Linked DNA regions of Homo sapiens: region 1 is linked to region 2. The links come from fine-mapping of genetic effects on gene expression. A gene starts in region 2. The other region holds a variant in brackets. All regions are shown on one strand. Distances are between the middles of the regions. Region 1 overlaps CPNE2 (copine 2). Region 2 holds the start of PLLP (plasmolipin).

Region 1 (5,000 bases), 150 kb before region 2:
GGTGACCTGCCAGGGTCTCAGTTTCCTCCACTATGAGGAGAGGGTGGTTGGGCCTCTCTGTGGGTCACACCCAGCAGTGGAGGTGAAAAGCAGATGTGGGGGGTATCAGTGGCCTAGAGGAGGGTAGGGGTGGGGGTTATGAGCCGGTGCTCTCAAAGGGAGCCTTGGCCTGGCAGTGGGTGGTGGCCTGGGTCTGGGTTTGGGGGCGGGAGGCTGCAGCTCAGCGTTTTCTCTGCGTTTCAGGTCTCCCATGAGTTTGCCATCAACTTCAACCCCACCAACCCCTTCTGCTCAGGTGAGTGTCAGACCCACCTGCAGCTGCCCTGTGTTTGCTACGGGCCTGGCCAGCTCCCTGGGTGGAGGGAGGGCAGAGGACAGGTTTTCATTTCTTTCTCCTTTCCCCTCCCCCTTACTGTTGCTCAGAGTGACAGAGGGGGAAGAGCTGCAGTTTGGAGTCAGATAGTCCTGGATTCAAGGCCAGCTGCTGCCCTTCCTAGCTGTGGGACCTTGGAAAGGTCACTGTACCTCCTGGGCCTTTGCCTCCTTACCTGCTCCAGGATAACTATGACAGCTGCTCTTCTCACTTTACTGGGTGGTTCAGTGAGAATTACAGGAAGCCACTGACAGGAAGTCCTGTGTAAACCAGGAGGAGGTGAGGGTGGCACCAGACACACCTGCTTTCACCTCCTTCCCACCCGCCCCCTTGCTGGGAAGGCCAGCCCTGCTCTGGGAGTACTTGGCGGGGGATCAGGGGGAGGCAGGGGCTGGGAAGTGAGTATGGTGTCTGTGTTCATCCCCACCCCTGGGCCTAAGAGGATTTCTGAGCCTCCTAGGGACAGTTAAGAAACTATTAGAGGCCGGATGCTGTGGCTCATGCCTGTAATCCCAGCACTTTGGGAAGCTGAGGCAAGAGGAGCACTTGAGCCTAGGAGTTCAAGACCAGCCTGGGCAATAGAGGGAGACCCCATTTCTACAAATTAAAAAAATTACCCAGGCATGGTGGCATATGCCTGTGGTCCCAGCTACTCAGGAAGCTGAGGTGGGAGGAAAGAAAGAGAGATGGGGAGGGGAAGGGAGGGTCACACCTTTAATCCCAGCACTTCGGAAGGCCAAGGTGGGTAGATCAGAGGTCAGGAGTTCAAGACCAGCCTGGCCAAGATTGTGAAACCCCGTCTGTACTAAAACTACAAAAATTAGCCAGGCGTGGTGGTGCGCACCTGTAATCCCAGCTACTCAGGAAGCTGAGGCGGGAGAATCGCTTGAACCCAGGTGGCAGAGGTTGCAGTGAGCTGAGATCATGTCACTGCACTCCAGCCTGGGTAACAGAGTGAGACTCTGTCTCAAAAAAAAAAAAAAAAAAGGAAGGAGAAAAGAGAAAGAAAGGAAAGAGAGAGACAGAGAGAAAGGAAAGGAAAGGAAGGGAAGGGGAAGGGGAAGGGAGAAGGAGGGAGGGAAGGAGGAAGGAAGGAAGGAAAGGAGGAAGGGAGGGAGGAGGGGAGGGAGGGAGGAAGAAAGGAAGAAAGAAAGAAAAAGGAAGATGAAAGAAGGAAGGGAGGGATGGAGGAAGGGAGGAAGAAAACTCTGAGTGGAGGAGAGGGGATGCAGGTGGGTATGGAAGAGGGCTGTTTCTATCATCATGAGACCTTTCCGCCTAGGACTTGGCTTCAACATAGCATCTACCTTCCCTGGGGATCCCCAAAGCTGGGCCAGGCTGTCTGATTTGGGGTAGATCTCCAGAGACATTTTGGTCAATCAGCTTCATCCCTGGCCAGGCCTTCTGGGCAGGGCTACAGGGCAGTGTGCTCATAACAGCAGCTATTTACAGAGCGCCTACTCTGTACAGGCACTGTGCGAACGCCTTGATCCCCCAACCACGAACAGAAGCCATAGCATGTCCAGAATGGACCTCCAGATGGCTTCCCATGGTCTCAAAGCATCACTGCAAGCTTCGCCAAGCCCCTTCTCTGGAAAGGCCTGAGAGACCCCCCTCCTGCCAACTGCCAGAGTGTAGATTATCAGTCCCATTGACAGACAAAGACGTAGCCTCAGAAAGATTAAACTACTTGCCCCAGGTCCCACAGCTAAGAAAGGCAGGATTTAGGCTGGACACGGTGACTCATGCCTGTAATCCCAGCACTTTGGGAGGCCAAAGTGGGCAGATAACCTGAGGTCAGGAGTTTGAGACCAGCCTGGGCAACATGGCGAAACCCTGCCTCTACTAAAAATACAAAAATTAGCCAGGTGTGGTGGCACATGCCTGTAGTCCCAGCTACTCGGGAGGCCGAGGCAGGAGAATTGCTTGAACCTGGGGGGTGGAGGTTGCACTGAGCCGAGATCCTGTCACTGCACTCCAGCCTGGGTGACAGAGCAAGACTCCTCTCAAAGAAAAGGCAGGATTCAAACTCTACAGGCCTGTCTGACTTCACATTCAGGGCTCTTGGCTTTTTACCATGCTGGCCCTTCCCTCTGGCAGCTTCCAGTCTGTCTCACAAGGCCTATGCTAGCCATGGCAGGGACATTTTGGGTAAGCATGAAATAGATGTTTCATCAGCAGTGAGATGAGAGTGGGTATGGGGTCAGGGAGACCTGGCTGATCCAGACTCTTCTCCCGAGGCAGGTGTGGATGGTATTGCCCAGGCGTACTCAGCTTGCCTGCCCCACATCCGCTTCTACGGTCCTACCAATTTCTCCCCCATCGTCAACCACGTGGCCCGGTTTGCGGCCCAGGCCACACAACAGCGGACGGCCACGGTGAGTAGGCAGCTGCAAGCCAGTCATGCCAGGAAACA[C/G]GCACGTCCTCTGGGCTGGGGGGCAGGATATTCTGCCTTCTCTTTGCTTTAAATCCTAGTGGACACCTCTGGGCCTTGCTTTACCTTCACGTATTGTAAAAGTTGAGTCAAGCTCAACTTGATTGGTCCTGGCTTCCTGGAGCACAGACTGGAGAAAGCAAATCCATTCGTGCTGAGCAGGAAGCAGGGCTGTGATCAACGGGAGATGTCTCCCCAGGGCGAGGTACTGGTTATTCCCACAAGAGTAACAAGATGGAAAACTGGAGGCAGTGATCCCTGAGGCCCTAACGCTGACCCTTCTGAGCCACCTAGTTCCAATCAGAGCTGCCCCTGCCTTACACTGAGGGCTGCTGAACTGTCTGGCCCTGGCCCTACACTCAGCAACAAGCCTAGAGCCTCACTGGCCCGGCTGAGGCTGCCAAAGTAGCTGCGTGGCATCTGGAATATATGGTAAGCAGCCATCCCAGGCATCTGCAACCGTGGTCTCCCTTCCCTTCTCCCGCCCCCAGCTGCAGGCTGGCTCCCAGGCAGGCCCTACTGGCAGGGTCTGATGCCAGTGGTGGGGTCACCAAAGGTCACCTTGCCCACCTCCCCATTTCCACCATGACCTGCCCTTGCCTCTCTCTGCAGTATGAGTTGAGAGGTCTTCTCCCCCTGCCCTAAGGGCAGTTATCTGATGTCCCTTCTGCCTTCTCCTGACCTTGGGGACCTGACTGACCTATGCCCTATGCATAGGACTTCTCAGCCCCTGACTCAGCCCTGCTCCTCACGCTCCAGCGCCGTGACGGGGAATCAGGCACCCAGCCCAGATGCTGGTCTGGGTTGAGGAGACTTGACTCCAATTCCTTTCTGGCCACTACCTCCTGGGAGACCTCGGCCAGCCCCCACCCCTTTCTCATCTTCCACCTCCATTGAAAGAAGAGGGTTGCTGAAGTCACTTCTAGAGTGTTCATTTCACTAGACTCTAAAATATCCCAAATTCACCCACTTCCCCATGGCCACAGGTCTCTCAGTGGACCCTGCAGCTGCCTTCACCACTCCTCACACCACCAGTCCACAAGCTACCATTTGTTTCCCCCACTGGAGGGTCAGATCCAGCCGCTGCCCTGCCAAAAACCCTTCGCCATCAGATTGGATCCCCTGAGGCCAGCCTCTGCCTTCCTTACCGACCCGATCACTGACTGCACAGCCCTTTCCTTCTCTTAGGATGATTCTGCCACCTAACCCCCCGTGTGTTCCTCGAGCACTCCTAGCTGTTCCCCCGCAGGTCCTTCCTGGACTCTGCAAGGCCCTCCCTCAGGGCCTCCTCCCCCAAGCAGCCTTCCCTGACCACTATATGAAGCAGATCTCTTGCCTTCTCTGCCTGTTCCTGGCTGACCCTGATGATGGTCGGCAATGTCTAGTTCACATCCTTCTCTCCGTGCCTGGTCCAGTGCCTGGGCTGTGCAGGCTCATCGTGCTCTGTGAATGGATGAAGTCAGCACTGGCTGAGGGATGTCAGTTGTACAAGCTCAGTCAGAGCCTCCTCCCCCAGGGAAAGGGACCTGGTCCCATGCCTAAGGGGACCATTGGGACCAGCCAAGGGAGGGAGGCACCTGGTCACCAGGGAGGTGGCAGTTGACTTCCGGGAGGTGGTGGGAAAGATAGTGCAACTGCCCAGTGGGTTCACCTTGCCTGCTGCCTAGAAAGAATGATTTATCAAGACAGGGGAACTGCAATGGAGAAAGAGTAATTCACAGAGAGCCGGTTGTGCAGGAAACCGGACTTTTATTATTTCTCAAATCAGTCTCCCCGAGCATTTGGGGATCAGAGTTTTTAAAGATAATTTGGCGAGTAGAAGCTTGGAAAGTGGGGAGTGCTGATTGGTCAGGCTGGAGATGGAATCATAGGGGGTCGAAGTGAGTTTTTCTTGCTGTCTGAAGTGAGTTTTTCTTGCTGTCTTCTGTTCCTGGGTGCAATGGCAGAACTGACTGAGCCAGATTACCAGTCTGGGTGGTGACAGCTGATCCATGGAGTGCAGGGTCTGCAAAATATCTCAAGCACTGATCTTAGGTTTCACAGTAGTGACATCCCCAATTTGGGGAGGTTCAGACTCTTGGAGCCAGAGGCTGCATGACTCCTAAACTGTAATTTCCAATCTGTAGCTGATTTGTTAGTCCTGCAAAGACATACTGGACCCCAGGCAAGAAGAGGGTCTTTTTGGGAATGGGC
Region 2 (5,430 bases):
AAGCTACCAAGACCCTTGCGGCCCACAGCAGCAACATCCTCCTCTTACTCCAATGCCTTCCATTCCCCCTATTGCCCCTATTGCTAGTCTCTTTCTTTTTTCTTTTCTTTTTTTTTTTTTGTGTGTGTGTTTGTCTGTTTGAGACAAAGTCTCATTCTGTCACCCAGGCTGGAGTGCAGTGGTGCGATCAAAGTCACTGTAGCCTCAAACTCCCAGGCACAAGGGGTCCTCCTACCTCAGCCTCCCAAGTAGCTGAGACCACAGGCGCATACCACCATGCCTGGCTATTTTTTTTTTCCTTTTTTTTGTAGAGACAGGGTCTCAATATGTTGCCCAGGCTGGTCTTGAACTTCTGGCCACAAGCAATCCTCCTGTCCATCAGGGGCCAGCCTCAGGATCCACCTCACCAGGGATGCTGAGGGATCCCTCACAGGGATCTTGCCAGTCATCATCCTCCACCCAGCAAGATCCCTCTTCTGTTCCAAAACCTCTTAAGGCCACCAACAGAACCTAGACCCTGTAGCTCGCAGAAGTTACACAAGGCCCTTGGCTTCTGTCCACACCAGAAACAAGTGCTTCAACTCCAGCACCACCAACCTGTTGGCTACTCCCTGCAAATTAATTCAACTTTCTCATCACCACATCTTGGCTCACACTGTTCCCTGCCCTTGGAACACCCTTTCCCTGCGTCTGCCTCAGATTTCAGTGAAGTCTCTGCTCAAAAACCACCTCCTCCAACAAGCCTTCCTGGTCGTGAAATTGCTCTCCTTCTCCTCTGCCCTTTCGCACCACTTCTCACACCCACCTGGCTCTCCCCTGGGCAGCCAGGCAGCTGCTCATGGCTGTGCCCCTCACAACCAGCCCAGAGCAGAGCATTCTAGCGGTGGCGGGGTCAGTGGCTCTCCCCATCTGCAGAATTAAATGATTCCAGGAACTAGACCTCTTCCCTCAGAAGACAGAATCTTCTCCCCTTCTCCCCCACCCCCCAAAAGAGAAACAAACAAAAAACTCTGGGAGAACTGTTAAAAATGAATTTCTGGCTGTACTTCCTGAGATTCAAATTCCGATTGCACATTTTTTTCCGGGGGTGGAGTCCAATAATCTAAATTTTAAACAAACCCGCCAGGAGATTCAGAGGTTGGGGAGGGGGCCCACAGAGATCTGAGAAATCCTGAAATGAGATAGCACTGACCCAGGTAGAGGTGGGCCCGCACCTGGAGAGGTCAGGGAAGGGAGACTGGACCTCAGCCCAGGGTCTGGCACCAAAGCAACCACCCTGCCCTCTAGCTTGGGCCTCGCAGCAGCGCTAGCACCCAGCAATAGGAGACAATGGGAAATGTCCACTCGCTGGATTGCTAAGAAATACAGGTCCTGGCCCAACTCCAATTCCACCTGAGTCCTCTGAAAATGTATCAGGCCCTCACCCACCCAGGGCACCCACCCAGCTTCCAGACCCTCACGAAAGGGTGGCAGAGGAAGAAGCTAACATCCGGGCCTGTGGCTGGTGTGGGAGTGGAGGATGTTCCCATGGGTCCGCCTCAGTTGGGGTCTGTACAGGGGTCTGGGAGAGAGTAGGAGTCTTGCCCCTGGCTACCCACAAACCCCTCCCTCCAGCGATATCTCGGTCCCGTGGGGCTGGCTAAACCGGCTGAAACCTGGCGGGTCACCCAGAGAAAGCTAGAAGAGCCCGGCTCCCGCGCGGGCGCCCACAGGGTAGTGCCTGAGTGTGCGTGTTGGGGAGTCGGATGTGCCCTCTAGATTAGATGAGGAATGTTCATGGGTGCGGCCACCCGGAGCCGCTGGGAGCGGGACAGAAGGTGGTCAGAGAGTGGACTTTGCCTCAGACTGGGTTCCCTAGAGGGCTGGGGGCACTGTCCGGGCAGAAAGAGGGGTGAAAAAGAGAGAGGAGGGAAGGGAGGGCTGGGAAGGGTTGGCGGGTTGTGCGCAGTGACTGTGGCTCCGGTGGGGGCTTCTGTGGCCGCTGGTAACCACCTTGGAGGGGGCACGATGGGGCACGGGCAGTGGGCACTCTGTACACGGTGCAGGGTGCTCACGCTCGCAGCGACGGCCACGGGGTAGTGTCGTGGTGAGAGGGATGCAGGGCGATCTTGGGGGCGTCCGTGCGGGAAGCGCCCTAGGGGTACGCGCAGCGCGTCGGTGACAGTGTGAGCCCGGGTGGGGAGCGCAAGGTTCGCGAAAAATGAACGCAGCGCCGGAGTCCCTCACCCATCCTGGCCGGACCGGGAGCCCCCGGCCAACCCCGTGGGCCCGCGCGTGCTCTCACCAGCTGCAGCAGCATGAGCGCCCCGAGGCGGGAGCGCACGAAGCCCAGGTCCGGGCGCAGCGCCGACACCGAGGCTTCGGCGCCCTGCGCAGGACTGCTGGTCCGCGTGCTAACTTTCGACGGGAACTCGGCCATGGCGGCTCCGCTTGCCTCCCGAGGTCGCTACGGCCGCCGTCGCCGCCCCTCCAGCGGTGGGTGCCGGCTCCCGCGCCGCTTTTCCCCCAGGCTCCGGATCCCTGTGTGGCTCCAGGCGCTGCAGGAGGCGTCGGGGCTGGGAGCCTGGGGCGCCAGGTGCGGCCGAGATCCCGGCTCCGCCCCCGCCGCCGGGGCCGCCCCCTTAACCCTTTGCTCGCCGCCGCCGCCCCAGCCGCGACCGGTTCGTGGGCAGCCGCGTCCACTCCCCGGACCAGTAAACAACCCCGGGTCCGTGAATCGGCTCCGCCAGCACCAGCCTAGACCGCTTCGCCGGCCTCCCCCGGGGCAAGCCGCCCGCTGGGAATTTCCCGGCTCTCGCCCAGGCCGTGGTAGCTTCCGCGCCTAGGGATAAACTTGTGGTAGCTCGCGGGGGACACCGCTCTCCCAGGCGCTTTCTACGCGCTGTGCACCCTCGGCCTAGGCCCCGGCGCAGCGACTCTTGAAGAGTCCCGGGAGAAGGCTGGATGCGGTGGCTCCTGCCTCTGATCGCAGCACTTTGGGAGGCTAAGGTGAAAGGATAATTTCAGGCCAAGAGTTCGAGACCAGCCTGGGTAACACAGTGAGACGCCCCCCCTCCCCCCGTCTGTATTTTATAGAAAAGAAAGTAAAGAAGAATCCTGGGAGACCCAGCGCGGGGAAGGGGAGGGTCTGGGTAAGCGGTGGGTAAGCGGTAGAAGGGGGAGGTCCTTTTCTGCCTATTAATGCTGTTTTCACTTCTGAACATATTTTATATAACTTAGATGATCGCGGAGCCTCAGTTTCCTCGTCTGTCATATAGATACGAAGGAAACCTGCCTCACAGAGCGTTGTAGGGAATAAATGAAATATTCCCCAGAAAGCTCCTGACAGCGTGAGGGAGGAGGGGTCACTCAGAAGATGGGAGGTCATATACAGTTTCATTGCCACACATGCACCCTAAAATACTTACACACACACACACACCTCTTGAGCCTAGAGGTTTGCACAGATAGGTCATCATGCATTCATCAACCAATGTTTGCTGAACACCTACTACATGCCAGGCCCTGTGGATACAGCAGGAAACGAAGTAGACAAGGCCTTCTTGGCTCCCACATTTTTTTTTTCCCAAATACCCACTTAAAAAGAGAGCCACTTAAAAAATTGTTTTTAACTGACATGTAATATTAGGTTGGTGCAAAAGTTATACGGTTTTTGCATATAAAAGTATAGCAAAAACCGCAATTACTTTTTCGGCAACCTATAATTGTACCTAAATATGGGGTACCATGTGATGTTTTGGTACCTGTGTACGTTGTGTAAAAAAATCAAATCAAGGTACTTAGCATATCCATCACCTCATACATTTATGGCTTCTTTGGGGTGAGAACATTCAAAATCCCCACTTCTAGCTACCATATTTTGAAATATACAATATTAGGGCCAGGCGCTGTGGCTCACGCCTATAATCCCAGCACTTTGGGAGGCCAAGGCAGGCAGATCACCAGAGGTCATGAGTTTGAGACCAGCCTGGTCAACATGGCAAAACCCTGTCTCTACAAAAATACAAAAAAATTAGCCAGGCATGATGGTGGGTGCCTGTAGTCCCAGCTACACAGGAGGCTGAGACAGGAGAATCACTCGAACCCAGGGAGGCAGAGGTTGCAGTGAGCTGAAATCATGCCACTGCACTCCAGCCTGGGTGACAGAGCCAGACTCCATCTAAAAACAAAAACAAAAAAAGAAAAGAAATGTACAATATTGGTATTTTTTTCTTTTTACTTTTATTTATTTTGAGGCGAGGTCCCACTCTGTCACCCAGGCTGGAGGGCAGTGGCATGATCATAGCCTACTGCAGCCTCCAACCCCTAGGCTCAAGTGATCTTCTCACCTCAGCCTCCCTAGTAGCTAGGACTACAGGTGCACGCCACCATGCCCAACTAATTTTTTTTTTTTTTTGAGATGGAGTCTTGCTGGAATTACAGGCTCGAGCCACCATGCCCAGCTAATTTTTTGTATCTGTAATAGAGACTGGGTTTCACCATGTTGGCCAGGCTGGTCTTGTGATCCGCCCACCTTGGCCTCCCAAAGGGCTGGGATTACAGGCATCAGCCACTGGGCCCAGCCCTGACTAATTTTTTTAAATTTTTTTGTAGAGATGGGGTCTCTCCATGTTGCCCAGACTGGTTTCGCACTCCTGGCCTCAAGCGATCCACCCGCCTTGGCCTTTCAAAGTGCTGGAATTACAGGTGTGAGCCACCATGCCCAGCCCTAACTGTAACTTTGTACCTGTTAACCAACCTCTTTGTATCCTCCCACTACACCCCAGCCTCCTGTAACCACTATTCTACTCTACTATGAGATCAATTTATTTATTTATTTATTTGAGATGGCGTTTTGCTCTTGTTGCCCAGTCTGGAGTGCAATGGCGCGACCTCGGCTCACTGCAACCTCCGCCTCCCAGGTTCAAGCAATTCTCTTGCCTGAGTAGCTCGGATTACAGGCGCCCGCCAGCACGCTAAGCTAATTTTTTGTAATTTTAGTAGAGACAAGGTTTCACCATGTTGGCCAGGCTGGTATCAAACTCCTGAAATCAGGTGATCCACCTGTCTTGGCCTCCCAAAGTGCTGGGATTACAGGCGTGAGCCACTGCACCTGGCCGAGATCAACTTCTTTATTTCATTCCACATATGAGAGAGACCACGTGGTGTTTGTCTTTCTATGCCTGGCTTATTTCACTCACATGATGTCCTCCAGGTTCATCTGTGTTGCCACAAATGATAGGATTTCAGTCGTTGGATCCCACTGTCTGGTGGGGATGAGAAGTAATAAACCCGGGAGGAATAATACTTTCAGATAGTGACAAACGCTGTGACTAAAGTAAAATGGGGGAATGTGACACAGAGTCACCCACAGGTGATTTCTGGGTTAAGGTGGTCAAGGAAGACCTGTGGGAAGAGGTGACATTTATGCAGAGACCCAAATCATGAGTA

Evidence for each region.
Region 1: its variant is fine-mapped to the expression of PLLP in whole blood (INTERVAL, PIP above 0.99).

The regions. Positions count from the first base shown.
Region 1 is chr16:57,134,532-57,139,531 of GRCh38, forward strand. It overlaps CPNE2 (copine 2), which reads left to right. Exons shown (of 16, transcript NM_152727.6): 13 at 244-295; 14 at 2,618-2,751. Among named protein-coding and RNA genes, the nearest start is that of CPNE2, 44 kb to the left of the region's middle. RefSeq lists an enhancer at 702-751. The variant C/G (reference allele first, on the strand shown) is at 2,790.
Region 2 is chr16:57,282,122-57,287,551 of GRCh38, forward strand. It overlaps PLLP (plasmolipin), which reads right to left and starts at 2,551. Exons shown (of 4, transcript NM_015993.3): 1 at 2,285-2,551. The coding sequence starts at 2,419. RefSeq lists an enhancer at 1,629-2,290 and silencers at 2,335-2,744, 4,994-5,206.